Linked DNA regions of Homo sapiens. The protein of the gene in region 1 purifies or fractionates together with the protein of each later gene. This does not show direct contact. Each region holds a gene or a part of one and is shown on either strand. Other genes may lie near its edges.

Region 1 (16,263 bases):
GCTTCTCAATGTGGTTAATTTGGATGGGGATCATGTTGAATTTGGGTGGATAGTGGGACATTCAAGTGGGAATGTCTGGAAGGGGATCATTTGTAGCTCAGGTCTGGGACCTAGCAGCCTCTGGACCTTGCCTGGAGTCCAGAGAGTTGGACATGGGTCTTTCTTTTTTTTTTTTTTTTTTCTTTTGAGATGGAGTCTCGCTCTGTCACCCAGGCTAAAGGGCACTGGCACGATCTTGGCCCACTGCAACCTCCGCCTTCCAGGTTCAAGTGATTCTCCTGTCTCAGCCTCCCAAATAGCTGGGATTACAGGCGAACACCCGCACACCTGGCTAATTTTTGTATTTTTAGTACAGACAGGGTTTCGCCATATTGGCCAGGCTGGTCTCGAACTCCTGACCTCTCAGGTGATCCTCTTGCCTGGGCCTCCCAAAGTGCTGGGATTACAGGCGTGAGCCACCATGCCCGGCCTGACATGGGTCCTTCCTGAGGCAAGTCCCTGCCTGGCCTGTTAGCCCACCCACAGCCAGGCACGATTTCCACATGGCTGGTCCCAGCTTTATGGCCTGTTTCTCCCCTCTTCACCCCCTCCCCTCCATTTCTCCTGACCACCCCATGTCCCAAACACCTGCCAAGCCCTCAGCACCTCAACACTGTGTTTTCCACTGGCATTGCCACCTCAACTCCACCTCTATCCACCAACATCCTTCCTCTCCTTCCTCTCTGTTAAGTCACTTCTGATGGTTCCAACTGATTCCATTACTCCCATTTACATCATACTTTGCTTTTACTTTCCAAGCATTTATTGAGTACCTACTACAGCCGAGGCACTTTAGATCCTGGGGATGCCAGGATGAACATAAACAGGAATAGACCCTACCCTCATTATGCCTGTAGTCATAGAAACACCTGTATACACTTGGGACGAGTGCTTTGAAGAAGTGGCAGGTGGTAGTTTTGGGGCTGTCAAGATACAAATTTGATCTGATCAAGAGGCCAGGGAAAGTTACCCTGAGAAAATGCTGCTTGGGCAGAGACCTGGAGGACAGACAGGCAAAGAGGGAAGGGAAGAGTGAGTCAGGCAGCCACTTGTGCAAAGATCCAGAGGCTGCCTGTGGTATTAATCTTGGGGCTTGTATCCTTGTTTTATTATCATGTTTATCTTCTTGTCCCCAGTGAGTAAAGCTCTTTAAGGCAGGGCCTATTTCTGGCCTGTTGCTGTCCGCTGGAGGGGTTAAGAATAAAGCTTGCCCAGGGCAGGGAGACAGTTGTTTGAATGGACTAAGGGGAAACTGCCTGTTTCTGCAGAGACCCCCAGTGCATCACCCCCAGAGTCCCTGGAGTGCAGACAGGTCATCCTGTGGCCATCTCTACCACCCTTCTTTGTGGTGGCCAGGGGCCAAGGAACAGCATCACTTCTAGCTCCAGACCCAGATTTATGTCTGTCCTTGATGAAGGTGTCTTCTTGCACTGAGCTGGGATTTCAGGTCTCCTTTGTTTGTGAGCATGGAGGTAGCCTGTCCTTGTGGGCTCCCTGCGAGTTACAGAGTTTGGGGCCACAGAAGGAACATCAGGGTGGTTGTACCAGGATGTGGGGTTTATTACGACCTCTGGGCCCTATTCTCCTCCTGCTGCCCCCTGGCCCACTCTGGCCACACCAGTCTTCTTTCCACCCCTCAAATATGCCATGACCTTTTTTTTTTTTTTTTTGAGACAGGGTCTCACTTTGTTGTACAGGCTGGAGTGCAGTGGCATGATCACGGCTTACTGCATCCTCTGCCTCCCAGGCTTAAGTGATCCTCAGGCCTCAGCCTCCCGAGTAGCTGGGACCATGACCATTTTTTATCTCAGGACTTTGTCACTGCCCCTTCCACCAGGAATGCTCTTGTTTGGATCTTCAAACAACTACCTCCTTATCATCATTTCTAAATGTTATTCCTAAATGTCTCCCTTAAAAGTTGCGTTCAGAGAGCCCCCAGGTCTGAGCACCTCGGTTAAAGGCGCCCTCTATGTTCCCTACCCCGTCACTCTCTATCCCCATTACTTGATTTTACTTTCTCTGTAGTAGGACCTAACTCCAGTCCAAAATGACCTCTTTCCAGTTACACTGCCTGCCTACAGGGATGTAAGCTACAAGAGGCAGAGTTTTGCTGGATTCTCCTCTTCTGTTTCCTAAATGACTGTAACAGAGGAGCTACTCAGTAAAATAAATGAATGAATGAATGAATGAACAAATGTCCCCTGTGGGTACATGCCTGGATTCAGGAGGCTGGGACTAGATTGAGATAAATCCACACTGAGTTTAAGATTCCAATCTAGATGGTATTGGTGGTGTCAGCCTATCTGGATTGCTCCCCATACAATTTACTGACCCCCCTATCTCTTTCTATTCACTGCCCTTCAATCATATTCTCGCAGCTCCACCATAAATTGTGTTAGCTATTTGCCCTGGGACATGCTACTTCACCTTTCTAAACTTCAGTTTCCTCCTCTGTAAAACTCCCACACTTGCAGGGTGATGGTGAGGGTTAAATAGAGTAGCTTATTTAGAGTGCTTAGTGCATGTGCCTTGTAAGTAGCAAGCTTTCTCTAGACGTTAGCTACGCTGGTGAGTTTTGTCATCCTCACCACACCTCCCTTTGTCATTTTTTTTTGACGCTCCCCTTCCTGTACCTCCCTGTGCCCCTCACGTTTGCCCACCAGGGGGCCCCACATGCCGCTCTTCCTGCCCAGGTCGTCCACGCTGACGCATGCCGCCCGCCTGTCGTCACATCAGTACCTCCCTTGTGCCTCTGATGACAGCTCTGTCACTGTCTCTGATGACAGATTTGTCCACTGGTTCTGCCTCTTCACTGCAAATATCTCAGCCCCTTGCACCCAATACTTCATTCATTCCATAAATGACAGCACCTACTATGTGCCAGGCTTCAATGGTAGGTGTTGGGGATACAAAGAGAAAGATCAGCAATGCCCTGCCTTCAAGAAGCTCACAGTCTATAGGAGGATGGCAGAGGGGTCAAGAGGCAGAGGGGGCCATGCCCTGGACTTGATGGATGAGAAGGCCAGGATCACATTGCTCTTTGGAACTAACCCGCTGGCTGGAAAATGTAAGGAAGTTCCCCCCTATCAGGCCCTCAGCTCCTCACGTTACATATTTCTACACTTACCTGAATTTCTCAGCTCAGCTCTTCATCCCTAGTGCCTCAAACTCTATTCCAGACACCTCAGTTCCTTACACCAGATGCTGCAGCCCTCGCCCCAAACTCTCATTCCAAAATCTCCTACGTCCCAAACTTTAGGAGCTCAGCCACTCACCTCAAATATCTCAGCCCCTCCTCTAAGAAATACTGCAGTCAGGCCAAGTGCTGTGGCTCATGTCTGTAACCCCAGCACTTAGGGAGGCTGAGGCAGGAGGACTGCTTGAGTTCAGGAGTTCAAGACCAGCCCAGGCAACACAGCAAGACCTCGTCTCTACTAAAAATAAAAAAAGAAATTAGTAGGACATGGTGGCTTGTGCCTGTAGTCCCAGCTACTCAGGAGACTGAGGTGGGAGGATCACTTGAGCCCAGGAGATAGAAGCTGCAGTGAGCTAGGATCATGCCACTGAACAGTCTAGGCGACATGGTGAGACTTTATCTTAAAAAAAAAAAGAAAAGAAAAAAAAAAATGCTGCACTCATTGACATAATCTGTGGTTTCAGTCTTTTTTTTTTTTTTTTTTTCCAGCTTTTAGACTCAGGAAGGATGGGAAAAAGTAGTGATTTGGAGAAGCCCACTGGTAGGCTTTTTCTGATGTACCTTCCAGGGCAAAGAGGGGCATCCTTCACTCCCTCCCAGTGTGAGGATTGCTTATTTAAATACTGTGTTTACAGTGGCTCATGCCTGTAATCACAGCACTTTGAGAGGCCAAAGCAGGAGGACAGCCTGAGGCCAGGAGTTCAAGACCAGCCTGGGCAACATAGCAAGACCCTCATTTCTACCAAAAAAAATTTAATTAAGCTCGGTATAGTGGCATGGACCTATAGTCCCAGCCATTCAGGAGGCTGAGGCAGGAGAATGGCTTGAGCCCAGGAGTTAGAGGCTGCAGTAAGTTAGGATCACACCACTGCACCACAGCCTGGGTGACAGAGTGAGACACTGTCTCAAAACAAAACAAATGTTGTATTTGCTTTCTCACTCTTTCCTATCTCCATGATCACATCTTCTCTCCAGTTTTAAATGCCGCACCATTAATAATTCTCTCAGAGTTCCTTGGAGAGAGGTCATGATCTCATCACTCCTAATTCTCCAAAACTAATCATAGAATCTCAGAGTTGGAAAGGACCCAGAAGTCCAATGGGTTCCAAACTTCTTTTTAGTCAGGGACTCTTAACTGCAACCAAATCTTATGTGGAACGTCAATATATATATGTTGACTAGCTGTTGCGGCCTGGCCTCGTAACCCCATGGATTCTGCTTAGAATATGGATTGAAAACCCCTCATGGACGTGAGACTTTGCAGGCTTCAAAGAGAAAGATGGTCCCACCCAGTGGGGTGCCTCTGGTGCTTATCAGGGTACTGATATCTTTGTCATTCCCTGTTCTCTGAGCTCTGAGCACAGCCTGAGTGCTGGTGCTGCCCAGGGGACTGGCTGCAACCAGAGCAACCCAGCCCAAAGACCCCAGGAGGTTGCCATAGACACTGAAGTGGAGGGAGCTGGTGAGCTTGTTATTATTTGTGTGTATCTTCCCTCTAATTGCTGTAGGGTAGCTGGAGGTTGTGTGGGCGCTACAGCAGTGGGGATAGAGGAGGGTGTATGTGCGAGGGTGTGTGTTTGTGTGTGCACACAGAAGTGTCTATAGGCTCCAAACCACCACCGTGGATGCGTCAGAGGCTGCGCTGTTGAGAGAAGTAGTGAGGGAGGAAGGGAAAAGTGAAGTAGAGATACAAAGGAAAAAGGAGGCTGGACAAGGTGGCTCATGCCTGTAATCCTAGCACTTTTGGAGGCCAAGACAGGATGATTGCTTGAGTCTACGAGTTTGAGACCAGCCTGGTCAAAATTGTGAGACCTCATCTCTATAAAAAAATGTAAAACTAGCTGAGTGTGGTGGCACATGCCTGTAGTCCTAGCTACTTGGGAGGGTGAAGCTGCAGTGAGCCGTGACAGCACCACTGTACTCCAGCCTGGGGGACAGAGCGAGACCCTGTCTGAGGGGTTAAAAAAAAAAGACGATGGATTGAGTTTTCTTCTAATTGTGTGAATTCTAATTTTCTACTTTATTTGAATGTTTCAAAAAGTAAAAGGCAGTGACAAACCTATGGTAGGGAGTCATATTTGTTGAAAGGCAGCTAGCTCCACTTATATAGTACTATGAGTCACCCCTGAGGCTTCACTCCAATATTTTTCTCATCACTCTTCCTTTTACCTAGAGACACAATGCAAAATGCTTTACGTGGTTACCCCAAAACACCTAGTGTTGAACCCTCCCCTCAGTCGGGATGATGTTCCTCTCACAGCAGGCACATGAGACTGGTCAGGGTTGTAGTCCTGTTTTACATTTGCCCCAGGATACTCCTAGGGGACTCCATGGCAGCCCTCCTCTGTGCTTGTTCTGACCTCTCAGGGTCTCCTCCACTCCACCTTCCATTCATGAATAGAAAGTTTCAAGTATCAGCCTGGAGGTCAGGAAGCAAGTTGCCTTGAGCACTTAGGAAGGGCACATTGATGATCAACTGATATTCAAAGTTGCTTCTGCTTTGGAGATGGATGACAGAAACTCAACACTTACTGGCATCCCCATGTATGCAATCTCATTGCCCTACCCCACACTGGGACTTGGGACCTGGCTCTCACCCAGGTGCTTTGAGATAGGAAGTGGCCTTACTCTCCACTTTACCTCCTGTTGCCCTGGGGAGGGGTAGGGCATGGTGCTCTGGCACTGCTACCCTTTCCCTTGGCCCTCTCTACCCTTCTCCCAAGAGAACTGCTAATGCTTTTCCTTTAGGGCTTCATGCCCTCCCATTCCCTAATCACCCCTACTGGGCAGTCTGGTTCCCAAAGCAGCTCTCAGGGCTGTTGGGTCAGGACAGGAGGGGAGCACTCCTGGAGAGCTCTGCCCCACCCACCCCTCAGGGAGGCAGCTTGGGAGGCTGGGACACCTCTCAGCCCCCTCCTCTGGCAGAGCGAGCCTGCTGGCGAGGGAGACCCGACTCCCAGTGGGCGTCCTGCTGTAATCAAGACTGAGTGGCAGCCTCTGGCTGAGCTCCACCCTGCCCAGTTGGGGCTGGCCTCAGCCTCAGGGGACAGCTGCCCAGGCAGGTCAGGAACCTGCCCAGCCTGTTTGTCCCCCATCAAGACAGTTATGTGCCTCTGTCCCACCAACTTGTGATGGTGGGGACAGGAGAAGGGATGGTATCTCCCTCTGCCATCCCACAAATATTTACTGAGGGTCAGGGGCTGAGTGTACAATGGTGAACAAAAGGTGCAGAGGCCCCGCTTTATTGGAGCCTACAATTCAGCGGGAAGCTAGTTTTTGTATTTTTAGTAGAGACAGGATTTCACCATGTTGGCCAGGCTGGTCTCGAACTCCTGACCTCATGATCCACCCGCCTCAGCCTCCCAAAGTGCTGGGATTACAGGTATGAGCCACCACGCCCGGCCCAGCAAATGTAGTTCTAATTAGGCACCAAGTACTATTCTAAGTGCCTTAGACCATTTAATGCTGACAGGCCTATGAGGTAGGTAATATTATTGTTCCCAGCCGGGCGAGGTGGCTCATGAAGCCACCTCTGTACTACATACATACTTCATTACTTCATGTATGTACTACATACATACTTCATTACTACAACATAATGAAGCCCCGTCTGTACTAAAAATACAAAAAAATTAGCCGAGCGTGGTGGCGCGCGCCCATAATCCCAGCTACTCGGGAGGCTGAGGCAGGAGAATCGCTTGAACCCAGGAGGTGGAGGCTGCAGTGAGCCAAGATCGCACCACTGCACTCCAGCCCGGGCAACAGCGCAAGACTCCGTCTCAAAAAAAAGATTCAGTGACTTACCCCAGGTCACAGAGCTGATCAGTGAGTTGCCTAGAAATCCAATCCAGGCAGTTTGATGCAAGTTCACGCTTAGACAGCTATGAGATAGCTCTACTGCCCCTTATACCAGTCAATGCATCACTACAAAATGTGGTAGGTGCCAGAAAATAAAAGTACGAGGGTGCCTTGCAAGAAAATGGGGATTTCCCCTTTCTTCCACTTTCTCTTCTAGCCCCCACTGCACAAAGCCTTTTCAAGTCTTCCTACTTCACCCCTTTCATTTCTGGCCGGATAGAGAATACTCTTTCATCTCTGCAGTTATGGTGCAGGAAGGCAGAGTCCTACCTGTATCCTTGCCCCTGGCCTGGTCTCCCTGATCAACCCGCGCCTGAAGGGTTTCTTTCTAATAATGGCCCTGGTGCTTGCGCAAGTCTAGACTGTCAGCTCCCAGAGGGAAGGCGGCTGGCAGCTGGCTCTGCGCAGGCTGGGGGCGCCTCCCGGGCGTGCAGCCTGGCACAGGCTCCTTGACCTTGGCTCTCTCCCCACGTGCTAGGAGCCCGGTTGGGGGCTCGGGACCCGCGTGTAGGACCCGTCCAGAGAGGTCAGTGGTCCAGACTCCTACACTCCTAACACATGCACCCTCGCATGCACGTTCCCGAGCCCGCGCGGGGTCCGCCCCGGGACAAGCCCATAAGTCGCGAACCTTCCAGCTCCGTCTGCCCAGACAGGTGGCCCGGAGCGGGGACCCCCTCCCCTCGGCTGCCCCGCGCGCCTGGCCCAGCGAGGGCGGCTCCGGGGCGGGGCGGGGCCGGCGGCGGGAGGCCCCTCCCCGGGGGCGGGCCGGGGGCCGGGCGGGGGGGGGGACTGGCGGGGCCTGGGGGCGGGGCGGGGCGGGCGGCGCGGGGGTGTCCCTCCCTCCCTCGCTCTCCCCGGTAAAGTCTCGCGGTGCTGCCGGGCTCAGCCCCGTCTCCTCCTCTTGCTCCCTCGGCCGGGCGGCGGTGACTGTGCACCGACGTCGGCGCGGGCTGCACCGCCGCGTCCGCCCGCCCGCCAGCATGGCCACCACCGCCACCTGCACCCGTTTCACCGACGACTACCAGCTCTTCGAGGAGCTTGGCAAGTACGGCCCGCCCGCCGCGGTCCCCTGCCTGCCCTGCCGCCCGGGAGCTATGCGGCTTCTCGCCCCGCCCCCCGGCCCTGCACCGGCCGCTGCGGCTCCCCCTCGGCCGCCCCACCCCCGCCTTTCCCGCCCGCCGCCTTCGGTCCCCGCGCCCCCCGCGCACTGCCCCGCATCCCCCTCCGCGCCCTGCAGCAACTGGCGGGGCCGCTGCTCCCCACGCGCCGCCGCGGACACCGCAGACCCCGGACCGCTCCCGGGTGCCCTCCAGCCCCGCCCCTCCGCACCCTTCAGGCGCCCCCCTCCCGACCACCTCCCAACGCTGCCCGGTTGCTCACTCCGCACCCTGAACCCAGGTCCCACGCGCCTCGCACTCAGGACCCTCCCCAGCCCTGCAGCCCTAGCTCTGCTGCGGAGCCCGGGCGTGGGGGGGCTGTTTGGCGCCCGGCCCCGCCCCCCGCGGGTGCCGCTCCAGGCTCCCAGCCCCGCGGCTGGGCAGTGCTGCGGCACCCCCGTCCCCTCCCCCCACCCCTGCAGTGGTCCCGGGAGCCGCGCCGCAGCCTCAGCATCCCCCTCCCCTCCGCACTGAGCTGGCCGCTGCAGCAGCCCCGGCCCCCCACCCCCACCCGCGGCGCCGAGCCCGGCCACTGCAGCCCCCGCCCCGCCCGCCCCCCCAGACGTTTCCAGAGCTCAGAGTGCGAGCTCCCGTTTGACGGGGACGTCAAGGAAAATAGCATGGGAAGGGGAGTTCTTGATGTCTGACTGTGTCCTCTCTTCCCTTGCTGTCAGTTGAGCCGGGATGCAGTGAGATGAAACCGGCTGTGGGGGGGTTTGAGCCTCACTTTGCCCCATGGTTGAGGGAGATTTCTCTTTCAGGGGATGATACCCTCTTTTTAATCTTTCCTTCCCCGACCTTCAACTGTTCCTGCTGAGAGAAGGGCAGGGTCTCTCTGCTCCCTTCTGCCCTGGTTCTCTTGGCCGGGACCGCAGGGCTGTCTGAGATGCAGCAGGTGTGTGTTTTCAGCATCGCCCACCCGCTCCTGATGTGCAGCCTGAGGTGGAGGCTGTTGCCTTGCCCAGGGACTGGATGAGGGGGTGGGAGCGCGGCACGCCACCCACATCTGTTCAGTGTCCTGCGGTGGCCGCGTCCTTTTGCCTCATGTTGGATGGTGGTGGTCACAGCGCCGGTGTGTGTGCATGTACGTGAGTGTGACTAGAGGTCTGGTGGTGGGAGCATCATCGTCCCCAGACTTGAAGTGTGTCTGTGTCACTCTGCCCTGCTCCGTGTCCCAGTTCTTTTCCCCTTCTCCCTCCAGGGGTGCTTTCTCTGTGGTCCGCAGGTGTGTGAAGAAAACCTCCACGCAGGAGTACGCAGCAAAAATCATCAATACCAAGAAGTTGTCTGCCCGGGGTGAGTGTTCCCTGTCTTGACCTCTTCCTGAGGGTGCCTCCAGGGGCCATGGTTTCTTTTGAGGAAGCCCCAGGAATTGGGGGTTGTGCGTTTTAGCACTTGGAGAGGAGTTGGAATTTCAGACTGGTTGGACTTTGTGTCAGGCTGAAGCCAGAAAAGGAGTTGCATGGGGGACTGGAAGCGCCCAGGTACAAAAGAATGAAGGAAGAGATGCAAGTAGCTGCAGTGGCCCCCAAAGGCTCAAGGGAGTTCGGTCTTCAGGGAGGTGGAGGATATGGGGGTAGTGGGTGGTACAGAATGGGGAGCTCTTAATTTGGGGCATTTGGAGCCTCTCCCTTTGGGGCAGTGGTGGCTACTGCAGGCCTTTCCTGGTCCCTGTGCCCCAGTGGTGACTTAGGATGGAAATGCAGTAAGTGAGCAGCTCTGACAAAGCCAGCCTCCCCTGCCCACCAGGCGGCAGAACAGACTCCCAAGGGAAGGGAATCTGTAAACATCAGGGGAGGCTGCTACTGGCGAGGGCTTCTCAGGAACAAATTCTGCCAGATGAACTTGATTGCTTTTTTGATCAAATTACAAAGTTGGTGGTGCAGCAGCAGATGTAGTCTGTCCTGGGTGGAGGGTGATGCCTCATGGTCTAGAAATCCCAAAGGCCCGGTTTGGGCAGGAACTGCACTGCCTCCGAGTCTGAGGAGCATAAAGGCCAAGGCCTTGGGGCCTCACTTGCGAGATCCTCCCAAGTACCTGAGGCTTGGAGGGTCAGGGCCTGTCTTTCACACCTTGAACCTACACTCTCTGAACTTCCTATTGGGTACTTGCCAAACTCACCTCATCTGATAGGTGTAGACCCAGCAATGTGTGAAGTGCTCTGGGAACAGGTCTGGTGAGTACAGAGGTCAGATCTCGGAGGGCTGCAGGGTGCAGCTGGGGGACAAAGGTTGTGAAACTCAGAGAAAGGAATTAGGGCTGGGCAGTAGGATGCCATAAATATATTAGGAGCCAGGACACATGCCCTGGGGAAGACATGGGCTTTGGCCAATAATGACACGGGTTTCTCTGGGATAAGAGACATAATAGATGTCCCAAATGCTTAGAGAAGCTCTACAATTCCACGGGCTTCTGTCGTGTTGGCAGTTGTTCTGGGACCTGTTTAGCAGGGCCGTGTCCACTCCCTGACTGGGGACTCTCTCTCCATCCCTCTAGTAGGGCACTAATTGCTGACTCCCATCCAGCTCCATCTCTTGCTGTTCGTGTACATTGCCTATAAAGTTGGACTTGTTTGTTTTCTTTCTCTCTGGGTACCTTGAGTCTGAGGATGGTTGCCATAGAGATATGTGGGCAGTCAGATACCCTGGAGTGGGGGTGGGGGGGACAACAGGGGCTGGGCTCTCTGGCAGACATCCTCTGGCCAAGGATGGAAGGTGCAGGCAGGAACAATGGCTTGAGGCTGGATACCTCTCTTGCCCACACAGCAGAGCCCTGGTGCATCAGAAACAGGGCTGGCATCTGGTGTCTCCAGTTGATGATGCAATGCTTTGCTCTCTTCATCTCACCAGTGTCCTCTGACCCATGGGTAAGAGAAGGAGAGATGGCTGGGAGCCGAATTCTGGGATGTGAGGATAGGTGATGTGGTGACTTCCTGCAGCTGCCTGACTGGGGCTTTCATTTCCTACTCCTTCCCTACCTGCGTAAATTTCCATGACCTGTGTGATAGCCTCCCTTTCCCTTCCTCACCTCCTTTTAACCTTGTCCCATCTTTCCCAATGGATATCTTTCCCTGGCCAAACTGGATGAGACTTGATTTCTCGTTGATTTTTTTTTTTTTCCCCTCAAGAAGAGGATTCTTGTGTAAAAGTATATGCTTCAGACAGCAACTCCCCCTCTCCCAAGATGGATATGCCAAGACTGGGCTCTGTTGTGTGGCCTCATGTGCCAGGTTGACTTTGGGACAGAGGCACAGATGATAGGCACAGATGCCAGCCAGAGGGGTCAGAATGTGTAAGTGCCAGCCAGTACTGTGTGGAGGTGGGAAAGTGGAAAGGGGCTGTCTTGGAGATGGAGGGAACAAGGTGGGGCTGGACTATAGGTGTGGGCATGGGAGATGTGAACTCCTGGAGAGATCTGGGCCAGGGTAGCCATGGGCTGGTTCCCATGGGGTTAGGGAGTGAGGGCCATGGCTTCCCTGCAGACTCTCAGTTTACACTATATATTTTATAAAGGTGCAGCCACTGGAGCTGGGTTTCACTCATCGCTGTCTGCCTAGGTCTCCGCAGGTGTTGGATTTCTGTGTCTGGGAATGTCGTGGGCCCACCAGGGTCATCTGTGAAGGTCTGAAGGGGCTTGCTGTGTTCACTGGGTCTTCCTGCCTCCTGTCTTTCTTGTTTGTGATTCTCTGGGCTACAAACTGAAAAGATAAAAAGAGGGTATAGAGCTGTTTCTCCTTGGCATCCCTGGTGAGGTGGCTAGGAGTCAGGGAGAGGGATCACCTGTTCTTCTGGGGGGGTCCAATCGAGACAGGAAGCCTTCTTTTGGGCTGTTGTGTCTTGTCACTGTGGCCTCAGAGGCCCACATTGGCGGCTAGGTTGCAAGGTGGGGAGTTCATGCGGATATGCGTTGAGCACTGTCTTTGTCTGCGGGCCTGTCTACATAAAGTCACTGAAAGTCACATAACGTCACTCCGTTTGCTTCAGAACCGTGATAGGAGTGGAGCTGGGCTCTTAAGGGAGCCCATGGTTCCAAGCTTAGCTCCACTAGGCCGAAGGAGGCATTTAAAATAGGCTTGGATGCAGGAGCTAGTGGGCCAGGTGATGGCAATGATAAGTCGTTATTTTAAGATTTAAGAGCACCCCCCTCAAGGAGCCTGAGCCCTTATGTCTTTTTTTATTTTTAAATCTTCATATTCCCTTCTTATCTTTATTCATATGCATACAGATTTTCACCTCGTGGAGCATAACATTTTATATCCTGCTCTCTTTGCTTATATCCAAAGCATTTCCCCCATATTACTACAGTTGAAGGGCAAATGGTCCTTTCTTCTACGTCGTTTAGGATTTATCCCTAAAACAATCAGCATCACAAGAAACTTCTGTATATGTACCATTTATCTGGATTCCAGTTGCTTTTACCAAGATAGATACTGGGGTAATGCCCTTGGCCTTACTAAGAGATGCTACCGGAAACAGTGTTTTGAAATCTGTTATAATACTTTAACATATTTATTTAATCTGTACATTCCGTGTGAAGAAATTTCTTTTGAAGCTAAATGTAAGCAAAAGCTTTCCTCTTTGTGAGGACCTGAGAGGTGAGGGAAGGGTCCTTATGTGTTTCTATACTTCTGCATGGGCAGGCCCTAGCGAAGTGCCTGACGTATGCCAGCCACATACACATTAAATGAATGGGTCAAGAGGACTATGTAACCAATCATGGTTGCCTTTTGGCTTTGGCTCCTAGGAAACTCAGAGTCAAGTTGCCAGAGCCCTTGTACCCTGCTACAGACTTGGGTCCTCCCTTTCTGATCCAGGGAGCCAAGCTGCAGACCTGATACGGCTGCTGGAAGAGAGGACAGATGAGGATAAAGACCTGTGCTTGGGGCATAAGGCAGAGTGGGAGATGTAGGCAGACATTTAGCTGATGATTCCTCCTTCCCTGTCACTAAATGGCACTATAGGGCCACTGTTGGGATCTCTTCCAGGTAGTGATTTTCAATTTTAGTGTGCGTAAGGATCACCCTGAGTACTAGTTTAAAAAATACAGACTTCTGGGCTTTAGCCACAGAGATTCTGCTTTAGGAGGTCTAGGGTGGAGCTGCAGAATCTGCATTTTTAACACATGCTCCAGTGAATTTCATGCAGGTGAGGCATGAGCCACTCTTTAAGAGATGCCACCTAAAATCTGCAACAACAGTTGCTCTTGCCATGCCCTCTGGAATTCAACAGACACACCTTGGCCCATCCTTCTCCAGATTGTGTGTCTGCCACTATGTGGCCATCTGTGCACATGGGCTGTTCTGTGATTAGGGGCCTCGTTCTGGGCCTCGGGATTGGGGTGTCTGTGTCTGAGGCTGCGGCAAGCTGGGTGGCTCGGGTTGTGGCATGTTGGCCACCAGAAGGGTAAAGGCTGTCCCTTTCTGGGTCCAGCTGGCCCTGGGGACTGAAATGGGATCCCCTGGATGGTGCCAGCTGAGAGTCCCCGCCCCCTTAGTGTTGGCCTGAGTAGCCCCCATGACATTTGTGTCCCCTGTGGTATCTCCAAGTGAGACTTTCCTGTTAAGGATCTGGGTGAAGTGAGGGAAAGAGAAGGGAGGGGGAAGCAGTAATGCAGGGAGTGGGAGAAGGAAGAGAAATCCACACAGCACTGGAACACAGGCCTCGAGGAAGCATTTAAGGAGGCTGTGTGCGAAACCATGCTTTCCTCCTGAGGATAAAACAGGCCAATTTCTGTAAACAGAGAAATGGGCATCCTGCATATCAGTGATGGAGCGCCTCTACTTTCTCTCCTGAAGGGATGGAAGCCGACTGCAGGTCCCTCTGTGCAAAGGCTTCTGCCAGGCGGCTTTTGTCACGCGGTCACGTTGAGCTGTGGGCCTTAGCACACACAACACTGGCCTGTCCCCCTCCCCTCCCACCTGTCTTCCTAGAGTGACTTGGGGTGCTGCATCATGGTGTGGGGATGGAGGTGGGAAGGTTGCCCTGTCCTGTCAGGGAGGCCCCTGCCTTCTTCCTGCTGCTTCCTCTGGTCCCTTGTCACCATACCCTTGTTCGAAGCTGTGCTGAAACCCTAGAGGTGAGTGGCTGACCCCATTCTCTGCTGAGACTGGAGATAGGGAAGGGGAGGCTGGGTGTGACCATTCCTGCTCCCATCTGTATGCTTGCTGCTCTCTGAACAGCTTTGGCAGACCAACAAGGGCCTGATCCCATGGGTGCCAAAAGGGTGGTGACAGGAGGAGATGGGCACTTTGCACCTCTTGAATGCCTCTCTGCAGAGCCCCTTTGTCACCTACCCATGGCCAGACAGATCTGCCGCAGGACCGCTGGGGAAATCAAAGCACAAAAGCTTTGTCTGGGGTCTTTTTTTTCTTTTTTGGTTTTGTGCTGCAGGTGCCCATGACTTTGCCAGGGCTCAGACCCAGCGTCCTCAGGCCGTGTGGCCTCCACCCACTCCTTGGCGCCTTTCTTTAAAACACAGGTTCTGGATACTTTGTTCCTGTGATGAATCTTGGCATATCACCTCACACCTCTCCATCTAGGCCCCAAGCTCCAAGCCTGGTGGAGCAAATCCCTCCTCGTTGCTGGCTGAGGCCCCATTCCCGTCTGTACCCACCTCTCTGGGCTGTGCGGTGGGGAGATTTCCAGCCACTCCTCCCCAACACCATCTCCGCTTCCTGGGCCCTATCAGCAGCAGCCGCAGCTTCCCATCTGCTCCCCTCTTTTCTCCTCCCTTTCTTTCCCTTCCCCCCTGCTTGCTGCTGCCCTGGGAGGAGCTATTTTTAGGGGCTGCTTCCTGGGATGTTTTACTTGGGGCTGGTTACCATGAAGGAAATGTCACCAAAACAGTGGGCAAAGGCTGCAGGCACCGGGAGCCCTGCCGGGGGGCATGGAGAACAGACGGCTGACCCTTTTCTGGCCCTTGAGAGCAGCCAGAGTGCCCCCAGGCAGAGCCTTGCCTTCTTGGGGCTTGCTAGTGACCCCTTGGGGATTTTCTCTGTCAAAGCTGATTGAGGGCCTTTTCGCTATAGGGCATTTCTTGGAGCCTCTCGCTTCCCTTGCCTTGAGATCCAGAGGCCAAAGTGGGGCTCAGGTCTTTGTGTCACCAAGTTAAAACTGCTTGAGTGAGGGTTGAAGATAAGGGGAGGATGCTGGGTACATGCACAGAGCCTTGGGGGTTCACATGGGACCATTTCAGGCCCCGTCCCTCTGTATCACAGCCCCCAGCTAGTCACCAGGTGTACATGTGTGAGGGCATTAGAAACCATGGTCCTGCTCTTGTGTGTCGGATGGACTTTGCTTTTAATTGGAGACTCTTTGCATCTTTAGAGTGAGATTCAAAGAGGAAGGGATGTGGCATCACAGTGTCAGGGTGAGGTCGGTGGGATCGTGGCTTGGGATTCCCACTGGTCAGTGTCCCAGGCCCAGGGCTGTGCATAAGCAGCTGGGGAAGGTGGATTATGACATCAAATCCCTGCGATGTCCTTGTTTCTGCTCCTCAGAGTGCCAAGGGGACCAGACGGCGGCCTCTGCTGCTTGGGAAGAAGATGAAAGGCACTCAGGAGGGCAGCAAGTGAGGCCGCCTCCCATGGAGCCCTGAAATCAGTGGGGTTGCAGGAAGTTTCTCACATCCATGTTTAGGGTCATAGGCACAGACCTGCAAAATACCCTTTACAAAGTTAAGAATGTCTTTGAGATTGGAACTTGGGAGAGTCCTCAGTCAGAGTAGGAATGTGCATCCTTTCCCACGTACAGAGGATTGTATGTTTACGTGGCAGCAGGATCTTATTTGAAGCTAGTGCTGGCATTTGTGTTTTTTTTTTAGGAAAATGTCACTAAGTCAAGCAGGCCCATCCCTGAGAGGGCCATGGAGAATCTGTGGCCAGCCCTCCCTGGCCCCCTGACCTGGCAGAGGAAGGAAAGGGCATTGGAGTAGGCTTCTGTCTTCAGGCCAGAGGGGGAGGTGGTTCAGGGGCAGGCTTGGTGCACCCCTTGGCTGCAAGCTATCACCTCCCTA
Region 2 (7,011 bases), on another chromosome or scaffold:
GGCTTGGCCTGCCATCCAATGCCCAGGTGAAGGAACCGAGCCCAGAAGGCAGGCACAGAGGCCTGGGCTGGGCTGTCCCACAGCCACGTTCTTCTCTACGTCTTGCCATCACTGTCTGATGCCGCTGCCTGTGCCTCAGTTTCCCCATCTGGATTGGAGGGAGGAGACGAGATCAAGGGGAAACTGATGTGTGCTGAGCCTCCCTTCTGTGCTGGGCCCTGCTGGGGCTGACCTTCCCCTTTCTTATCCCACCAGCTTGAGTGTGGGGCTCGGTGCACAGTCTGGGCTATCAAATACTTATTTTTGATCCTGGAATGTCTGTGCTGAAAGGGTCCATGGAGATGGCCTGGTCCTGTGGTTCTTATTTCTAGAGTCCTGGGGTTTGGTGAAGGAGTTTCAGATGAAGTTTCAGGGGGAAGCTGGAGTAAGGCCCTAGGACCCCCACCTTTGCTTCAAGCAGGTTTTATCTACTTTGGATTTGGGAAAACTGGTTTTGCCGCTGAAAAGATGTGATCTTCTCCAGGTTTCCCATTGGATGATGTAGAGTCAGAGGCAGCTTTTTCAAAGCCACAAAGAAAGCCTATAGCAAATAATAACAACCACTTTTATTGAGGACTGATTCTGTGCTAGGCGTGGTGTGTGTATGATCTCCTCCCCACAATAAACCACCAAGTAATAATGATTCTTATGCCAATTTGACAGATGAAAAAACTTAGGCACAGAGAGTGAAAGGATCACAGACCTAGGAAATGACCGAGCAGGGCTTTGAACTTTTTTTTTTGAGATGGCGTCTCGCTCTGTTGTCCATGCTGGAATGCAGTGGTGCAATCATGGCTCACTGCAGCTTCAATTTCCCTGGCTCAAACAATCCTCCCTGATCAGCCTCCCGAGTAGCTGGGATCACAAGTGTGCCCCACCATGCCCGATTCCTTTTTAAATTTTTTGTAGAGATGAGGGTCTCACTATATTGCCCAGGCTGGTCTACAACTCCTACACTCAAGCAATCCGACTGCCTCAGCCTCCCAAAGTACTGGGATTATAGGTGTGAGCCACCACGCCCAACCAGGGCTTTGAACTTGACTGCCCCAGTGGGCTCTTCATCCTAGACTACTGCCCCAGACCATGTACTGCCAGGCTTCCTTGTGGGGAGGTGGGGAGGGAAGCCTTCATTCCTGCCTTATTAGGTTCCTTCACCTGGGTCTGGCCTCCTCAACACAGCTCTGGGCCTCTGGTTCAGAGCCAGCCTCTTGGCTTTGGGGAATGAGTGTAAACAGGTAGGAATGGAGTCCCAGCACATGTGTTGACTTCAAGATGAAGAGATGCCCCCACCAAATGCTGGAAGGAACGGAGGACTGAGTGAGGCCTTTGTGATAAAGACAAGTGGGAGGAATGGAGGTGGAGGAAAGCCATACTGATTCGCAATTTGCCCTTGCAGAACTTCTGTGTGACCCTGGGGACATCACTCCACCTTCAGGCACCTTGTCTGTGAAATGGGCCTGACAGTCCCAGTCCCCTCCACTTCCGAAGCTTAGCGATTAATGAGCGAATAGTCATGGAGATGCTTTTCAAGCTGTCAAGCACCATGTGCTGGGAGGCGCGTGTGCTTCCTGAAGGGGGTGGGTACTGAGTTGGGAACATGGGATGCTGTCACCTTTAACCTTATTTGGAACAAGGCAAGGTAAACATAAAAACAGATGGGGTGGAAATTGGACTTCTCTTCTTGCTCTCACTTGCTGTGTGTGCAGGGATTCGTCAGTCCTCGCTGGGTCTTTCTGCTTACCTTCTGTGCAGTGGGACTGTCGTAGGTGCTCAGCGTGTAAATTGCTTTGTGCCTCTCAGCAGCAAGGAAGGAGCCAGGCGGATGTGAGATGAATGGGGTGGTCCCAGCCCTGTATGCTGTCACCACTGCAGGGAGTCCCCTACGGAATCAGGGCTGGCCACAGTGGCTTCTCCTGGCTCTATCACTAGGCTGTGACCTTGGGCAAGTCACTTATCCTCTTTCTGCTATGTCAGTTAAACAGGGATGCAACGTCTCCTCTTTCTACCTCAAAAGGTATTTATTTTGAGAAGCAAGGTCAATAATAGATGTGAAAATGCGTTGGAGGAAAATAAGAAAGGGGACAAATGTCAGCGCTTCTTGGAACTTTATCATCCTGCTTGTTACGCTCTTGTTTTCTCTCTTAGCACTTGGCTTTGGCACTAACCTCAAAGCAGGCACTTGGGAAAGTCCTAATGAATGAGCCAGGTGGCTTGTGGAGAGGAACAAGGTCAGTCTGGGGACCTGAGGCTTCTGCCATCGACAAACTGTGGGATTTGGGGCTAGCCCCTGGCCCTCTGGACTTCTGTTTCCCCATATGGAAATGAGGGATAGGCCCAGCTCATCTCTAAGGATTCTCCCAGCTCATGTGGTCCTGAAATGGAAACAAATGAAGTGCTACCGTTCTTTCTCACTCATTAAGTCATCTCTCAAATGTCTATTGCACATCCACTCTCAGCCAGGCATCAGAGCCTGATTTTATTTTTGTTTTCATAACTGTCCTGCAGGGTACACAGGTACTGGCTAGCCATATACCCATTTGACAGCTGAGACCATGGAAGCTCAGAGAGGAGAGATGACCCACCCAGGGTCACACAGTCAGCAAACCACGGGGTTGGGATTCAAACCCAGACCTAAATCCAAGGGACATGCTTATTCCACCTGCCACATTGCTTCAGTCTCCCTTTTCTCTGCTCCCTTCCTCCTCCCCCCATGGATTCTGGCTTCCCGAGGCCAGCCAATCCTTTTACACCGTTTGGAGAGGGGGCTGGACTGACTCCCCCCTCCACCAGATGTTATACCAGGAAAAAACCTTCCCCTTCTGCCTCCAGCTCCCACCCGCCAGAGTTCTAGATAGGAGGGGAGAGCTCCTTTCACTGTTGATGGGACCCCTTGCAGGGCAGCAGGATGAGCCAGGTGAGACTCACCTGGGCCACCTGGATGTGTTTCCTAGCCCTGCCTCCAGCAGCTGGCATGACCTTGGGGTGGTTGCCCCTCCCTGTGGTCAGGCCGGCTCTACTAAGCAAAGACGGTCTCCAGCGGAGGGCAGGTGCTGTTGGCTCCGGCGAGGATAATGAGCGCTCCTCATGCACCTTGCCCCCTCGGAGTTACCATCTGCTTGGCAGATGCGCCTCCCAGGCCTCTGGGGCTGCCCCAGTCTCCCTCCCGGCATCGAGGAGCCCGCTCCTCCTCTCAGAGGCCATAGTCTCTCCACAGGGCGCACGGCTGTTGCTGGAAGGGAGACCCCCGAGGGCAGAGGGCGGCAGACCCGGGACGTCCCCAGCGGAGGCAGCGGACGCCGGGAGCCAGGCATCCCGGGCGAGCCCGGCGTAATGAGGCGCTCCCTTCTCCTGCGGGAGGCGGGGCTGCCCCTTCCCTCTCCCCCTCCCCCTCCTGGAGGCCCTGCGGGAGCCGGAGTCCAGCGCAGTTGGGCGGGGGCGTGGGGGAGTGAGGCCTTCCAGGTCGGACTGAGCCGGGGCGGGAGGAGAGTGTGAGGCCCCAGTGGCTGGGCCCTCAGGGTCTGAATTGGGGAGCAAGTGTGGTGGGGAGGAAGGGCTCCCCGGTTTGCAGATGGCGGGGGAGGCTATGTCCGCGGGTCGCCCTGGAGCCCTCCGATCTTTGCCCCGCAGCATCTGCCCCCCAGGGGGGTCAGCATGCTTCCGCCCTTCCCCGCGTGTGCGTCGTCTGTCCGCTCCCTCTCCAGCTCCCGGAACCCCCACTCCCCCCGAGGTCCCCTCGGGAGGCAAAGCCGGCTGCGGGGCGGGCGCGCACCAGCTCCGGGCCCCGTAAACACCCGTGAGCGGGACGGCGGGGGCTGGGGGCGGGGGCAGGAAGCTAGCGGCAGCCCGGGCCGGCCGGCGCGGCCCCGTGACGTCGCTCCGCTCGCAGGGATCTCTCCCCGAGGCCCGCGGGTCCCCTCCTCCCCGCCTCCTCCCGCCCTCCTCCCCGCGCCTCGCCTCGGCGCCGCGGCCGGCATTTCTCCTCGCAGCTCGCTGCCTCCTCTATCCCTGCCTCCCTCTCCCCCCTCTGTTTTTCTCCCTTCCTTCCCTCTCCGACCCTCTTCCTCTCCCTCCCGATCCTTTCCCTCCTCCTCTCATCTTTCCCCTGTCTCTCCGTTCTAGCTCGTCCCCCACCCCACCTTTTCTTCTTTCTCCTCCTCTCCTTCCTCTCCCCCTCTCCTCTGTCTCCTTCCACCGTCTCCCCTGCCTCCCTGTCTTTCAGTCCCTGTTTTTCAGCCCCGTCTCCCTCTCGGTTTCTCTCCCCCACCCTCCCTCCGGGTTTCCTCCCCGGTGCCCTCCCTCCTCTCTCCCTCCCCTCCCCCTCCGCCCCTCGCAGCCCCGCCGCTCGCAGCTCCCAGTCTGCCTCCCCGAACCGGCGCCGCCGCCCGCACTCGCCGCAGGACCGGCCCGCCCGGCTCCCGGGGTGCGCCCTCCTCGGTCCCGCGCCCTCCGGGCTCGCAGGGACGTCTCCTCCCTCCCGGCTCGCGGCCCCGCCCGGCCCGGCCCCCGCCCAGAGCCCCAGCGCGCCGAGGATGTGAGTCCTGCTCGCCTCTGGCGGAGCAGCAGCCACTCGCGCGCGGAGCCGGAGCGCAGCGCAGCGCAGCCGCGGGCGCTCTCCGGGCCGCTCGCGCGAGTGCCGCGCTCTTGCCCTAGCGGCGTCCCCCGGCCTCTCGCCGGCGCCACCGCCGCAGCAGCCCGCGGGCCGTCCCCGGCCGGCCGCCCCCGGCCCCAGCGCCGCTGACCCTGTCCGCCGCGGGCGGGGACGCGGGCGGAGGAGGCGCCGCGGCGGAGCCCCCGGACGCGACCATGTCGGAGGTGCTGCCCTACGGCGACGAGAAGCTGAGCCCCTACGGCGACGGCGGCGACGTGGGCCAGATCTTCTCCTGCCGCCTGCAGGACACCAACAACTTCTTCGGCGCCGGGCAGAACAAGCGGCCGCCCAAGCTGGGCCAGATCGGCCGGAGCAAGCGGGGTGAGTTCGCGGCCCCCTTGTCTGACACCCCCTTTTTCCCGCGCCGCGGCCTGAACAAGGGTTGCGGAGGTCTCCCACCCGCTGGAGCCCGTTCAGACCTGACGGAATCCCTTCTTGCAGAATTGGGGGATCCCGCACTGCGGGTCCGGCTGAAGCGGGTCGCAGGAACGCGTCCCCCTAAGCCGGATCCCCGGCTGGGTCACCCTGGGGGCGTGGCGGCTTCTAGCAGCAGCTGGGGGTCTCCACCCGCGCGGCAAAGTTTGCTTTTTGATTTGCGCCCCCCACCCCCGCCTTTTGCGCAGTGTAGTCACAGCTGCACTCGCTCCATAACCCTGTGGGGAGGGGGTCCCAGGGACCCCCAGGGGACGGCGTGGGGACCTGCGTGGGGAGGATCCCATTCCTGCGGGGAAGGCTAGGGTGTTCGGGTCGCACGGGCTTTTCATTGTTACTTGGCTTGGGAGGGGGTTTGCCAGGCCTGGGCGATCCGCGCGAGAGCTGGAAAAGCCCCAGAGAGGCGGAGACGCAGAGAGGCTCCGAGAGGAGCTCCAGAGACGCGGGGACAATGAGGGGGACCGACGGCTGCAGAGAGAGACTGAGACGCAGGGATGGAGGGGAGGGGGTACGCGGGAGACCGAGGGTGGCAGAGACCGAGACAAAGCTCCCGAGAGGGGAGCTGAAGCGGGAGAGACAGAGCCGAGGACGCGCGTTTGGGGAGGACGCAGAAGCCGCCGAAACAATAAGGGCGACCGACACCTTAGACAGGGAGAGACAGAGACCTCGATCGGCTGCCGGCCGTCGCGCCGAGGGACGATGGAGGGACTGAGAAAGGCGAGGCTAAGTCGAGACGGTAAGAGAGGCCGAGGTTACGGCATGTGTCCCTGGCAGGCAGCGAAGGGAGGCTCTGACCTCTGCGGCAGCGGGGAGCGCGGGGCGGCCGAGTCAGTCGGCCAGCGGCTGGGAGAGGGCGCGCAGGAGGGGGCGCCCGCCCAGGCCAGGCCCTAACCCCCACCCGCTGCGCGTCGTGGGAACCGGTTTTGGCGTCCCCTCCTGGTTCCGCTCATCTCCGCACCTAGCCTTGCCCACCGGAGCTGCGCTCGGGACTTACCTGGGGTCCCGAGACCCAAAGACTTTGGCTCCCTCTCCTATCCCAGCTCCAGACATTTCTGTCTAAATTAGTGCGCCTGGTGCGGGGAGGACGCGGGCCAGTGCGCGCCCTGGCTGCAGCAGGAGCGGCTGGGTTGGCGCCCTCTGTTTCCTTTTCTCAGAATGGAGCTGGGACGCAGGCTGGAGGATAGAGGGTGGTGGGTGGTTCAGAGGAAAGCAGGGAAGGGACCCCTGGCAGGGACGGAGGATGGAGCTGTTTCACCGCGCAGTGAGCCCTGCTCCCTCGCCCTCTCCTCTCCCGACCTCCCACTCTGGGCATAACGGGAAATGTCAGAGACCTCTGGCTAGGCCCCAGCGCGCTCACCTCTCTTTTCCCCCCTTTTTTTGCAGTTGTTATTGAAGATGATAGGATTGATGACGTGCTGAAAAATATGACCGACAAGGCACCTCCTGGTGTCTAACTCCCCCAAAGACAATGAGTTAAGGGAGAGAATAAGAACGGCGGTAACAGTTATTGGCAAAAAGCATGAAAAGAGAAAGCACTTTGAAATTTATTACTAGCTTGCTACCCACGATGAAATCAACAACCTGTATCTGGTATCAGGCCGGGAGACAGATGAGGCGAGAGGAGGAGGAGGAGGAGGAGAAGGCTCTGGGCTCCTCTGCAAAAATAAAAATAAAAAAATAAATAAAATTTTAAAAATAATAAAAATTCACTATATACACATATAAAGAAATAAAAAGAAGTCTCAGTTGCAGCTATTTGTCAAAATTAATATCCATTTCTTTTTATATACGGTGAATATTGCGCAATTATAGATCTGGATTTTGAACCACTTAATGAAGCGGCAACACCAGGTGTTTTGAGGTGTTGGCATTCTTCGCTGATTTGGCTGTTC

Evidence for each region.
Region 2: the proteins of CAMK2G (region 1) and CAMK2N1 purify together in Homo sapiens (affinity purification with mass spectrometry; 2 studies listed by BioGRID and IntAct, with this or other methods). This does not show direct contact.

The regions. Positions count from the first base shown.
Region 1 is NC_000010.11:73,866,272-73,882,534, reverse strand, and holds the start of CAMK2G (calcium/calmodulin-dependent protein kinase type II subunit gamma), read left to right. Parts: upstream 1-7,979; 5' UTR 7,980-8,073; coding exon 8,074-8,138; exon of another isoform or gene 8,139-9,332; coding exon of another isoform or gene 9,333-9,334; intron 9,335-9,451; coding exon 9,452-9,546; intron 9,547-16,263.
Region 2 is NC_000001.11:20,483,211-20,490,221, reverse strand, and holds the start of CAMK2N1 (calcium/calmodulin-dependent protein kinase II inhibitor 1), read left to right. Parts: upstream 1-4,011; 5' UTR 4,012-4,842; coding exon 4,843-5,008; intron 5,009-6,502; coding exon 6,503-6,573; 3' UTR 6,574-7,011. UniProt on the Homo sapiens protein: Potent and specific inhibitor of CaM-kinase II (CAMK2). Plays a role in the maintenance of long-term retrieval-induced memory in response to contextual fear.